Homo sapiens: one gene and its partners. The protein of the gene in region 1 purifies or fractionates together with the protein of each later gene. This does not show direct contact. Each region holds a gene or a part of one and is shown in the gene's direction. Other genes may lie near its edges.

Region 1 (3,655 bases):
TTAAGGTTTTCTAGTCTATTGACACATCTGTTACACTATTTTAGTAATTGACATTTTAGTTTTATCTTTTTGCTAATTTGTAAACATTATTGTATATTTGGGGAAAGTGTTTTGCCTTTTGTAACTTATGTATTTTTAAATAACAGAACTTGGTACTGTAGAGTAATGTCAGGATTGGAGTCCATATTATACAGTGTTCTGAAATACATTGTAATTATCTCACAGTATTATTTTGGCGACTTCAATTTGCCACGGGACAAGTTTCTAAAGGAACAGATAAAACTGGATGAAGGCTGGGTACCTTTGGAGATAATGATAAAATTCAACAGGTAACAAGCTTTTAAAAATAATCTTTAGGTTTTCTGTTTACAATGAGTGCTACTGCTGAGTCTTATGTTTTTATATGTACTCTTCAGGTTGAACCGTCTAACAACAGACTTTAATGTAATTGTGGAAGCATTGAGCAAATCCAAGGCAGAACTCATGGAAATCAGTGAAGATAAAACTAAAATCAGAAGGTCTCCAAGCAAACCCCTACCTGAAGTGACTGATGAGTATAAAAATGATGTAAAAAACAGATCTGTTTATATTGTAAGTGGGCCTGTAATGCATTTAAATATCTTACATTTATTTAGAAAGTAAAGTACGGAAGAATAAGGGCTCAGGAATCACAGCCTCACTAATTACTGTATGTCCTTTCGTAATATTCTTAACCTAAGTTTCTTTTGTTTTGTTTTGTTTTGAGACAGTCTCATCCTGTTGCTCACGTTGGAGTGCAGTGGTGTGATCATGGCCCACTGCAGTCTTGACCTCCTGGGCTCAAGTGATCCTCCCACCTCAGCCTCCTGAGTAGCTGGGACTACAGGTGCATGCTACCATGCCTGGCAAAAAATTTTTTGTAGAGACGGGTCTTCCTGTGTTGCCCAGGCTGGTGTCAATCTCCTGGGCTCAAGTGATCCAATCACCTTGACCTCCCAAAGTGCTGGGATTACAGGTGTGAGCCACCATGCCTAGTCCTAAGTTTTATCTTCATAAACGTGGATATTTTCTACCTTGTAGAACTGTTGTGAGAATTAAATGAAAAAAAATATATATACCATTGGATGAAATCTTTGACATATTCTAAGCACCTATTGCCTATTAGCTGTTCTTATTTATCAGCAGCTAAACTTGATTGCAGTTTTCTTTAGTGTATTTTTAAATAGTTTTTTATTACGGAAAATTTCAGATACATATATAAATAGATTCAATAATGTACCATCACCAGCTTTAGTAGTTAATAACAGAACATGCAAATCATCTTGTTTTATTTCTGCTTCAACTGAATTATTTTGAAGCAAATACCAGATGAATCACTTTTATTGTACTGGAGAGTAGTGGCTCCTAAACAAGGCTGTTAAGTGATTAACAAAGAGAAATAGAGATAGATAGGTATATCCTGGGTTCATTTCAAGAAAAAATGAATCAAATTCTCTCCAATTGTTTATCTGAGAAGTCATTATTTGTTATTTGTACATTTCTTCCCACTCTTCACAGAAAGGCTTCCCAACTGATGCAACTCTTGATGACATAAAAGAATGGTTAGAAGATAAAGGTCAAGTACTAAATATTCAGATGAGAAGAACATTGCATAAAGCATTTAAGGTATGATAATACAGACTTTTTCTAGTTTTAAAATATATGGGACATAACTTAAAAAAATATTTTCCTTCCTTTTTACAGGGATCAATTTTTGTTGTGTTTGATAGCATTGAATCTGCTAAGAAATTTGTAGAGACCCCTGGCCAGAAGTACAAAGAAACAGACCTGCTAATACTTTTCAAGTAAGTCTTTTTGCTGATGTTTCTCCTGGCCTTTTACTTATATGGACACACACTAGGGTAAGGAGCATGGAAGTAGTATCCCCTGAAAGGCCAATATTCTTAGTATCTTTAGATGACCTTTGAGAAATGCTTGATATTTGTTCAGTGAGAACTATAGTCTTTTGAGACTATAAGAAAAGTGTTCATTAGTACCTTTTCACTGTTAACAATTTTTTTTTCTTTTTCTTTTTTTTTTGAGACAAGTTTCACTCTTGTCACCCAGGCTGGAGTGCAGTGGTGTGATCTTGGCTCCCTGCAACCTCTGCTTCCTGGGTTCAAGCGATTCTCCTGCCTCAGCCTCCTGAGTAGCTGGGACTACAGGCGCGTGCCACCTCGTCCACCTAATTTTTGTATTTTTAGTAGAGATGGAGTTTCACCATGTTGGCCAGGCTGGTCTTGAACTCCTGACTTCAGATCATCCGCCTGCCTTGGCCTCCCAAAGTGTTGGGACTACAGGCGTGAGCCACTGCGCCCAGCCACTGTTAGCCATTATTAAAGGAGGTTATGTTTTAATACTGATTTTGCATCTAAAACTTTTGATCAGGCTGGGTATTAAAATTTGGTCTTTTGTGTGTTTGGAAAATATATCAATGCAGTTTTCATCTTATTTTTCATAGCCTATATGTCTTTTTTTTTTTTTTTTTTTTTTTACAGTACAAAGGATTTGAGATTTGGGTCACATTCTTTGTGAATGTGTGTCTGTCTAAGTGTCTAAAAATGGGGATGAACCAGAGCATTTTCATGATAAAATTAGGTGTAGGGCCATAGTTCCCTACTTTAGAAGACTGTGCATTAGTCTTCTAAATGGTATATACTAAACTTGATTGACTTAGAGATGCACTGTGATGGGTCATAGTATCAGTGTTAAATCCTCAAAAATTATTTAACATGATTTTCATATGTTATTGTTGGATCTTGGGGATTTTAGAATTTTCTCCTTTTGTGGAATTAACACTATAGAAAACTGCAATATTATTTGCATGACTTCTGATACACTTTTTTCCCTATACATGAATGATAAATGGAAATCAACATGAAATTGCTAATGGATAGGGGGTTTCTTTTTGGGGTCATGAAAATGTTCTGAAATTAGTAGTGATGGTTGTACAACTGAATATACTAAAAAACATTCAAGGTACACTTTAAAAGAGTGAATTTTGTGGCACATGGATTTTTTCCTCAGTAAAGCTGTTATATAAAAAAACATGAGAGAGTAAATTCCTTGGCATATTTTGAATTTTTAGTTGATGATTATGTTGATAGTAAGCGTGTGCAACATTCATTGCTGTGCCATGTCTTAAGTTATTCAAAATAATCTGCAGTCTTAACTTTGTTCTCGTGAACTTAGCCTCTGTACTGTGTGTTCTTTAGGGACGATTACTTTGCCAAAAAAAATGAAGAAAGAAAACAAAATAAAGTGGAAGCTAAATTAAGAGCTAAACAGTAAGTATGTTGAACTAATCACGACATAATTTGAATTCCTTAAAGCTCTGACAGAAATATAGCTGGTGAGCTCTGAAATAGTGGCAGTAGACCTTTCTCTTTGCTAGTGAAACACTGAGATCTTAAGCTGCCTTGACAATCTCAGGGCCAAATTGCATTGCAGTCTAGCATTGGACGATCAAAAAAACCTAAGGACTTCTGGCTTTGGTTAAGTAAGTTTAGTGATCATGATTGGTTAACTTTATTAGGACTTAATTTTCTTATATAGTAAATAGAAGTATGTTATAATTATATTTTTATTTGTAGGGAGCAAGAAGCAAAACAAAAGTTAGAAGAAGATGCTGAAATGG
Region 2 (3,655 bases), on another chromosome or scaffold:
TTTTTTTTTTTGAGAGCATCTCACTCTTGCCCATGCTGGAGTAGTGGTGTGATCATGGCTCACTGCAGCTAGGACCTCCCAGGCTCAAGTGATCCTCCCAGCTCATCCTCCAAAGTATCTCGGACTACAGGCATGCACCCCCATGCCTGGCTAATTAAAAATATTTTTTTTTTGTAGAGATGGGTTCTTACTATGTTGCCCAGGCAGGTGCTGAATTCCTGAGCTGAAGTGATGCTCCTGCCTCAGCCTCCCAAAGTGCTCGGATCACAGGCGCAAGCTACTGCACGTGGCCTTGATTATATTTTATGGTAGCTGGCAGTTTGCTGTGGTATCTGTCTAACAAAAGCAAATATTTTCCATTATATGTGTTTGTGCGCTGAAATTAAAAGTGGCACTTCATGGTGGCTTCGGCAGATTTGTCAGTGCAGCAGTACGGAGACTATGGCTTTGCAACCCTGAACCCAAGCCTTCCATTGAGTAGTGGAAAGGCCTTGTACAAGTTATTTCAGCTCGCAGAGTCTTGGGTGTCCCAGTTAGTAAAATGAAGGTTGTAATAGTGCTTTCCTCATGGGACTGTTGTGGGGCATGGCACAATGTGCGTAAAGCGCCTGGCACAGTTTGGCGCATAATAGGTGCTGCTCCATTCTCCCTTCCCTGCCTTTGATTGCACCAGTTGTTTTCTTTCCATCAGTCCTCTCTATTATTTCTCCCCCATTCTAGTACAGCTAGGTATAACACATTTTTCACATTGCTAGGGAGTTAAATCAGTTAGCAGATCATTTTGTGATTGGTTAAGTTTCCTTTAAAGCATCTATGTTGTTAATCCCAGCTACTCGGGAGGCTGAGGCAGGAGAATCGCCTGAACCCGGGAGGCAGAGGTTGCAGTGAACTGAGATCACACCACTGCACTCCAGCCTGGGTGACAGAGCAAGATTCCACCTCAAAAAAAAAAAAAAAAAAAAAAAAACTATGTCATTAATGATGTTCTAAGACCAGAATAGACCAGCATATGTACTCATTTATCAGTATAGATTGAACTATGTGGAAATAGCTCTTTTAAGTGCATTTCAGTATGTATTTAATATATGTACTTTCAGAGTACTTGTCCACATATAGTATCTTCATCATTTTACCCTAAAAATCAGAAGTTTACACCAAAAGCCACACCTTAAAAGTCAGCTTCTTGACTTTAGCGACTTTTATACCTTTTTCTTCTGCTGATCCACACATGGTGTTCATGTGAGGGGCACTTGCATGCATAGATATTCGTGACACTGACTAGCAAGTGCTCTCCCACTCCTGTTTGTGCTCCGCAAGCACACTCTATTGAGTTCAGACTGGTGATGTGGTGGGGAGAGCCTTGAATGTTCTTTAATGAAGAAAGTGTATCCTTCTCAAACTTCACTTCTCAAACATCCCAAACTGCGGTTACTTTGTGTGACACACTTGATAGGTGATTTTGAAACATCAGTGTGTCATGATAGCCCATTTAAGAACCAGAGCTTTAGCCCAGCTCTTTCATGGTACAGATGAGGAAACAGAACAAGTGGGGATTAGAACACTTGTGTCCTGATCTGGTCCAGTGCTTTTCAGCCTATCGTGTGATCATCGGATGAGTTCAGCTTCTCAGGTTTTATGAATCATAAGCAGGAGAACATTGCTAAAAGTCTTAAGATTTAAAACTTAGAGATCATGTTCTTATCTGTAATTGATTATTATCTTTTGGCATGTAATTTGATAAATACAAAGCAGTTCACATCATGTACAAGAGTTTCTCACCAGATGCAGTGGCTCACACCTGTAGTCCTAGCATTTTGGGAGGCTGAGGCAGGATGATCCCTTGAGCCCAGGAGTTTGAGACCAGACTGGGCAAGATGGTGAGACCCTGTGTTTACAAAAAATAAATTTAAAACATTTAGCTATGTGTGGTGGCATGAGCTTGTAGTAGCAGCTACTCAAGAGGCTGAGGCGGGAGGATCACTTGAGCCTGGGAATTTGAGGCTGCAGTGATTTGTGACTGCCACGGCACTCCAGCCTGGGTAAGAGTGAGACCCTGACTCAAAAAAAAAAAAAGAGAGTTTCTCAAAGTCACTGTTTTTCAACCTGGGGGTCATAGTCATAGGTTGTGAATTTATTTTAGCTGAAACAGCAAGTGCCACCTGAGCCATAGTGTTTTTCAACTGCATGGGTCTGTTTTGGGCTCTCTCTTCAGTTTGTCTATCCTGTGCCAATTCCACTGATTAACTTATTGCTAAGGCTTGCTATCTGGTAAGACAAATCCTCCTACCTGCTTTTTTTCTTTCCTTGCAGGGTGTTTTGGCTCTTTCATATAAATTTTAGAATTATTTTGTCAAGGTCTGTGAAAAACCCTGTTGGTTTTTTTATTTGAATTGCATTGAATTTATGGATTATTTAGGGGAGAATTGACGTCTTTGCCATAATGATTATTCTAACCCAGAACATGCATATAACTCCATTCGTCTAGGTATTGAATATTCTTTCTATTTTTGAGACATGGTCCTGCTCTGTTTCCCAGGCTGGAGTACAGTGGCATGATCTCAGCACACTGCAACCTCCGCCTGCTGGGCTGAAGCGATCCTTTCACCTCAGCCTTTCGAGTAGCTGGGACCACAGGCATGTGCCACCAGACTCAGCTAATTTTTACAGTTTTTGTAGAGACGGGGTTTTGCCCTGTTGCCCAGGCTGGTCTTGAATTCCTGGACTCAAGTGATCTGCCTGCCTCGGCCTCCCACAGTGCTGGGATTACAGGTGTGAGCCACCGCCCCCGGCCAAGTCTTTAATATCTTTCAATCAAGTTTAAAAACATTTTGCCATAGAGGTCTCACACATCTTTTGTTAGATGTATTTCTAGGTACTTTATAGTGCTTGATGTTTATGCTATCCTATTTAAAATTACATTTTAAAGCTTGCTGGTTTATAGAAATGTAATTTTTTTATTGTAAAAAACATATAACGTAAACTTTGCTATCTTATTCTTAAGTGTATGGTTCAGTAGTGTTAAGTATAGTCACATTGTTGTGAAGCAGATCTCCAAAGTTTTCATTTGCATATATACAACTCTACCAATTAAACAGCTCTCCTTCTCCTTCCTTCCCAATCCCCTGATAACTACCATTGTAGTTTTCTGTCTCTATGAATTTGACTAGATACTTCATATAAGTGGAATCATACAGTATTTGTCTCTTTGTATATAATTGATTTTTATACATTGCTCTTATTGCTTGTCACTTTGCTAATCTTGTTTATTATTTCCAAATGATTTGTTTGTAGATGAGTTTTGGTTTACTATACATTGATATCATCTGACCATAATTAACAGTTCTCATTCTTTTCTCTATATCTGTTTCTTTTCCTTGTCTCATTGTTAAAACCCCAGACCTCCAGTACAGGGTTAAATAGAAGGCAATACTGGGAAGTTTTTTGTGTTTTTTAAAAGGAATTTTAATGTATTATTAAATTTACTAAATATAAATATATAAATATATAATAAACAATATAATAAATATATAAATATGTTATTAAAATATATTTATTGCAGATTTTAAAAATCAGGTTAAGGAAGTGCCTTTCTATTCCTAGTTTGCTAATTCTTAATTTTGACTCATGAATGGATGTTTTAATCAAATGCTATTTC
Region 3 (3,655 bases), on another chromosome or scaffold:
GCTGAACCAAAAAAGAAGGCATATGTAGATTTCTGCATAAATTATGACTCCTTGAAAGATTCTAAGATGAAGGTGGCTTATCTTTGAGAGTGCAAGATGATTTTGGAATATAAAAAATTAGTTTGGCCCAGGCATGGTGGCTTATGCCTGTAATTCCAGCACTTTGGGAGACCGAAGCAGGTGGATCACCTGAAGTTAGGAGTTCGAGACCAGCCTGACCCACATAGTGAAACCCTGTCTCTACTGAAAATAAAAAAATTAGCCAGGTGTGGTGGTGGGCACCTGTAATCCTAGCTACTGGGGAGGCTGAGGCAGGAGAATTGCTTGAACCCAGGAGGCGGAGGTTGCAGTGAGCCGAGATTGCACCATTGCATTCCAGCCTGGGCAACAAGAGTCAAACTCCATCTCAAAAATAAGTAATAAAATTTTAAAAAATAAAATATTTCTTTGAATTACACAGGACGTTTGTCACTGATCTGTGTTCCTGAACTATGAAACATAGATCTGGGGGCTAAGGAAAAATTTCTCTTGATATTTATCAACAATTAGCAAGTACTGTAAAAACAAAAAATAGAATAGCCGTAAGACTGCCAAACAGGCATGTACCTTAAACTTGAAATTTCTATCAGGAGAAAATTATGCCTGTCCTAGATAAATATTGAAGGCTGTATTCCTGTTTTGCTAGTGTGAAAAATTAAGTGATGATTACCCACTCTTTTCAGAAAGGAGAAGATGAGTATGCCAACGTTGATGCCATTGTTGTATCAGTGGGTGTTGATGAAGAAATTGTTTATGCCAAATCAACTGCCTTACAGGTGAGAGATTTACAGCAATTTTTAGCTCTTAGAGTTGTTGGATTATCTACTGCACTGTTCAGTATGGTAGCCACATTAAAACTTAAATTCCTGGCTGGCTGCGGTGGCTCATGCCTGTAATCCCAGCACTTTGGGAGGCCGAGGCAGGTGGATTGCTTGAGCCCAGGAGTTCAAGACCAGCCTGGACAACATGGCAAAACCCTGTCTTTACAAGAAATACAAAAAAATTAAGCAGATGTGGGGGTGTGCACCTGTAGTCCCAGCTACTCAGGAGGCTGAGATGGGAGGATGGCATGACCCCAGGAGGTAGAGGTTGCAGTAAGCCAAGATTGCACCATTGCACTCCAGCCTGGGCAACACAGTGAGACCCTGTCTCTTACTTTAAAAAATTTCAATTTCTCAGTCCCATCAGCTGTGTTTCTGGTACTCAGCAGTGGCTACCCCATATTGGACAGAGCAGATAAATGGTATTTTCACCATCACATAAAGTTCAATTGGATTTAGCAGTGATTTAAGACATAAGGAAAAAGAAGTATTAATATCAGTATGGATTTAGCTGCTATAACACAAAAACCTAAGTAACAGTGAGTTAAACAAAATATTCTTTTCCTTATGTATAGTCTTCAGGGACCCAGGCTTTTTCCAGTTCTCTGTTCTGCCACCCAAAGAACATAGCCCTCTTGCACGTGGTACAGAATGGCTTCTAGAACTCCAGGTGTTTCATCTACATTCCAAGCAAAAAGAGACAGAGAAGAAAACAGGAGGCCACCTTTTCTTTTTAAGAAGACTTGCTTGAAGCTCCACACACTACCATTTTTTACCTATTGGCCAAAATTTGATCCTAATGACCATACTTACCTGAAAGGAAGGTAAAATATCAGTTCTTTGAGAAGGAGAAATGAATAATTGGTAGGGAACTGGTAATTGAGGAGGTAATAACGCAGGGTTCTGTATCACTCTGTCCCTTGTTTTATGCATTTCTGTATCACTAAACATTGATATACTTCCTATAAACACAAATCGTTTAACTGATTTGATGGTTTTAATTATAGAAAGTTCAAGCATATAAACGTAGAGAAAATAATACATTGAACCCCATTGTCCTGTTCTAATAAATTGTCGACTCTTGGCCGATCTTGCTTAATTTGTATCCACTCCAGACTCCCCAGCCTGATTACCTTGGAGTTAATTTCAGACATGTTATTTTTGTCTATAAGTATTTCTGTATATCTATATGAGTCCATTAATTTTTGTATCTGTAAATACCGTTGTCACTGTTGTCTTTTTCCATAGACATGGCTCTTTGGTTATGAACTAACTGATACTATCATGGTCTTTTGTGATGACAAAATCATCTTTATGGCCAGCAAGAAAAAAGTGGAGTTCTTGAAACAGATTGCCAACACTAAGGGCAATGAGAATGCTAATGGAGCCCCTGCCATCACACTGCTAATACGAGAAAAGGTCAGGATTAATAAAGAATGTGTCATAAATGTGGAAGAATCTTCAAAAGGGATGAACAGAAATGCCTTATAGGAGTTTGAAAGAATGCGCAGGGGAAATTATAGGTGGCTGTGGTTGTAATTACAAAGTTCTGTCACGTCTTCATTGTTAGGAGGAAAAGAATTCAATAATCCTATCAGTTCTGCTGTAAAACAAATGAGCTATGAAATTCTGGTGAACACTGATTTTATGTCTCCATTCTTGAGGACACTGTTAGTTTGTTTTCATCTGTATGCCTTGATTAGAGCAAATAACCTTAAATATCCTTAAGGAAACTTAGATATACATCATTTCCAGTTTTTATCAAATGTGAATTTTTTTTGTCATACTGCCCACCTAACATGGGATGTTTTCTCAGAATATTGTTCACTTATGTGTTTGAGTTTCTTAACTGTTTCTGAAGAAAAAGGATAGTTGTATCAGACGTGGTGGCACACACCCGTAGTCCCAGCTGCTCAGGAGGCTGAGATGGGAGGATTGCTTGAGCCCAGGTGTTTGAGACCAGCCTGGGCAACGTGAGACCCCTTCTCTTAAAAAAAGGAATAGTCTGGTCAACTTACGGCAGCACTTTCACCTGAGTATATAAAAATATCTAAAGAAATGTTTTGCTCACTTTTGATATATTACAATCTTCCTTAAAGATGGGAAGGCATCTTACAGGTAGGCCAGGCATGGTGGCTCATGGCTGTAATCCCAATACTTTGAGAGGCCGAGGCGAGCACTTGAGCGCAGGAGTTCCAGATGAGCCTGGGCAACATGACAAAACCCCATCTCTACAAAAAATACAAAAATTATTCAGGAAGGCTGGGTGCAGTGGATCACTTGAGGTCTGGAGTTCAAGACCATCCTGGGCAAGATAACAAAACCCCATCTCTACTAAAAATATAAAAAATTAGCCGGGCATGTTGTCACACACCTGTAATCCCAGCTGCTCGGGAGGCTGAGGCATGAGAATCACTTGAACCCGGGAGGCTGAGGTTGCAGTGAGTGTAGATTGCGCCGCTGCACTCCAGCCTGGCAACAGAGCAAGTCTGTCTCAAAAAAAAAAAAAAATTTATCCAGGCATGGTGGTATGAACCTGTAGTCCCAGCTACTTGGGAGGCCGAGGCAGGAGGATTGCTTGAACTTGGGAGTTCGAGGTTGCAGTAAGCTGTGATCACACCACTGTGCTCTACCCTGGGGGTAGTAGAACAAGACCCTGTCTCTTTAAAAGTAAAAAGTAGGTGGGGATGGGAGGAGAATTAATTTTTTCCGTAGTTTAGAATATTATTCTACCTGTTACTGGTAAAACGTGTCTAATGAACTGGTAAAACATATGTGTCTTTTCTTCCCTATGA

The links.
Region 2: the proteins of SSB (region 1) and SART3 purify together in Homo sapiens (affinity purification with mass spectrometry; 2 studies listed by BioGRID and IntAct, with this or other methods). This does not show direct contact.
Region 3: the proteins of SSB (region 1) and SUPT16H purify together in Homo sapiens (affinity purification with mass spectrometry; 2 studies listed by BioGRID and IntAct, with this or other methods). This does not show direct contact.

What each region holds. Positions count from the first base shown.
Region 1 is NC_000002.12:169,805,249-169,808,903, forward strand, and holds part of SSB (lupus La protein), read left to right. Parts: intron 1-225; coding exon 226-329; intron 330-416; coding exon 417-591; intron 592-1,536; coding exon 1,537-1,644; intron 1,645-1,722; coding exon 1,723-1,823; intron 1,824-3,233; coding exon 3,234-3,305; intron 3,306-3,611; coding exon 3,612-3,654; intron 3,655-3,655. UniProt on the Homo sapiens protein: Binds to the 3' poly(U) terminus of nascent RNA polymerase III transcripts, protecting them from exonuclease digestion and facilitating their folding and maturation.
Region 2 is NC_000012.12:108,554,519-108,558,173, reverse strand, and holds part of SART3 (spliceosome associated factor 3, U4/U6 recycling protein), read left to right. Parts: intron 1-3,655. UniProt on the Homo sapiens protein: U6 snRNP-binding protein that functions as a recycling factor of the splicing machinery. Promotes the initial reassembly of U4 and U6 snRNPs following their ejection from the spliceosome during its maturation.
Region 3 is NC_000014.9:21,370,498-21,374,152, reverse strand, and holds part of SUPT16H (FACT complex subunit SPT16), read left to right. Parts: intron 1-722; coding exon 723-815; intron 816-1,456; exon of another isoform or gene 1,457-1,684; intron 1,685-2,108; coding exon 2,109-2,279; intron 2,280-3,655. UniProt on the Homo sapiens protein: Component of the FACT complex, a general chromatin factor that acts to reorganize nucleosomes. The FACT complex is involved in multiple processes that require DNA as a template such as mRNA elongation, DNA replication and DNA repair.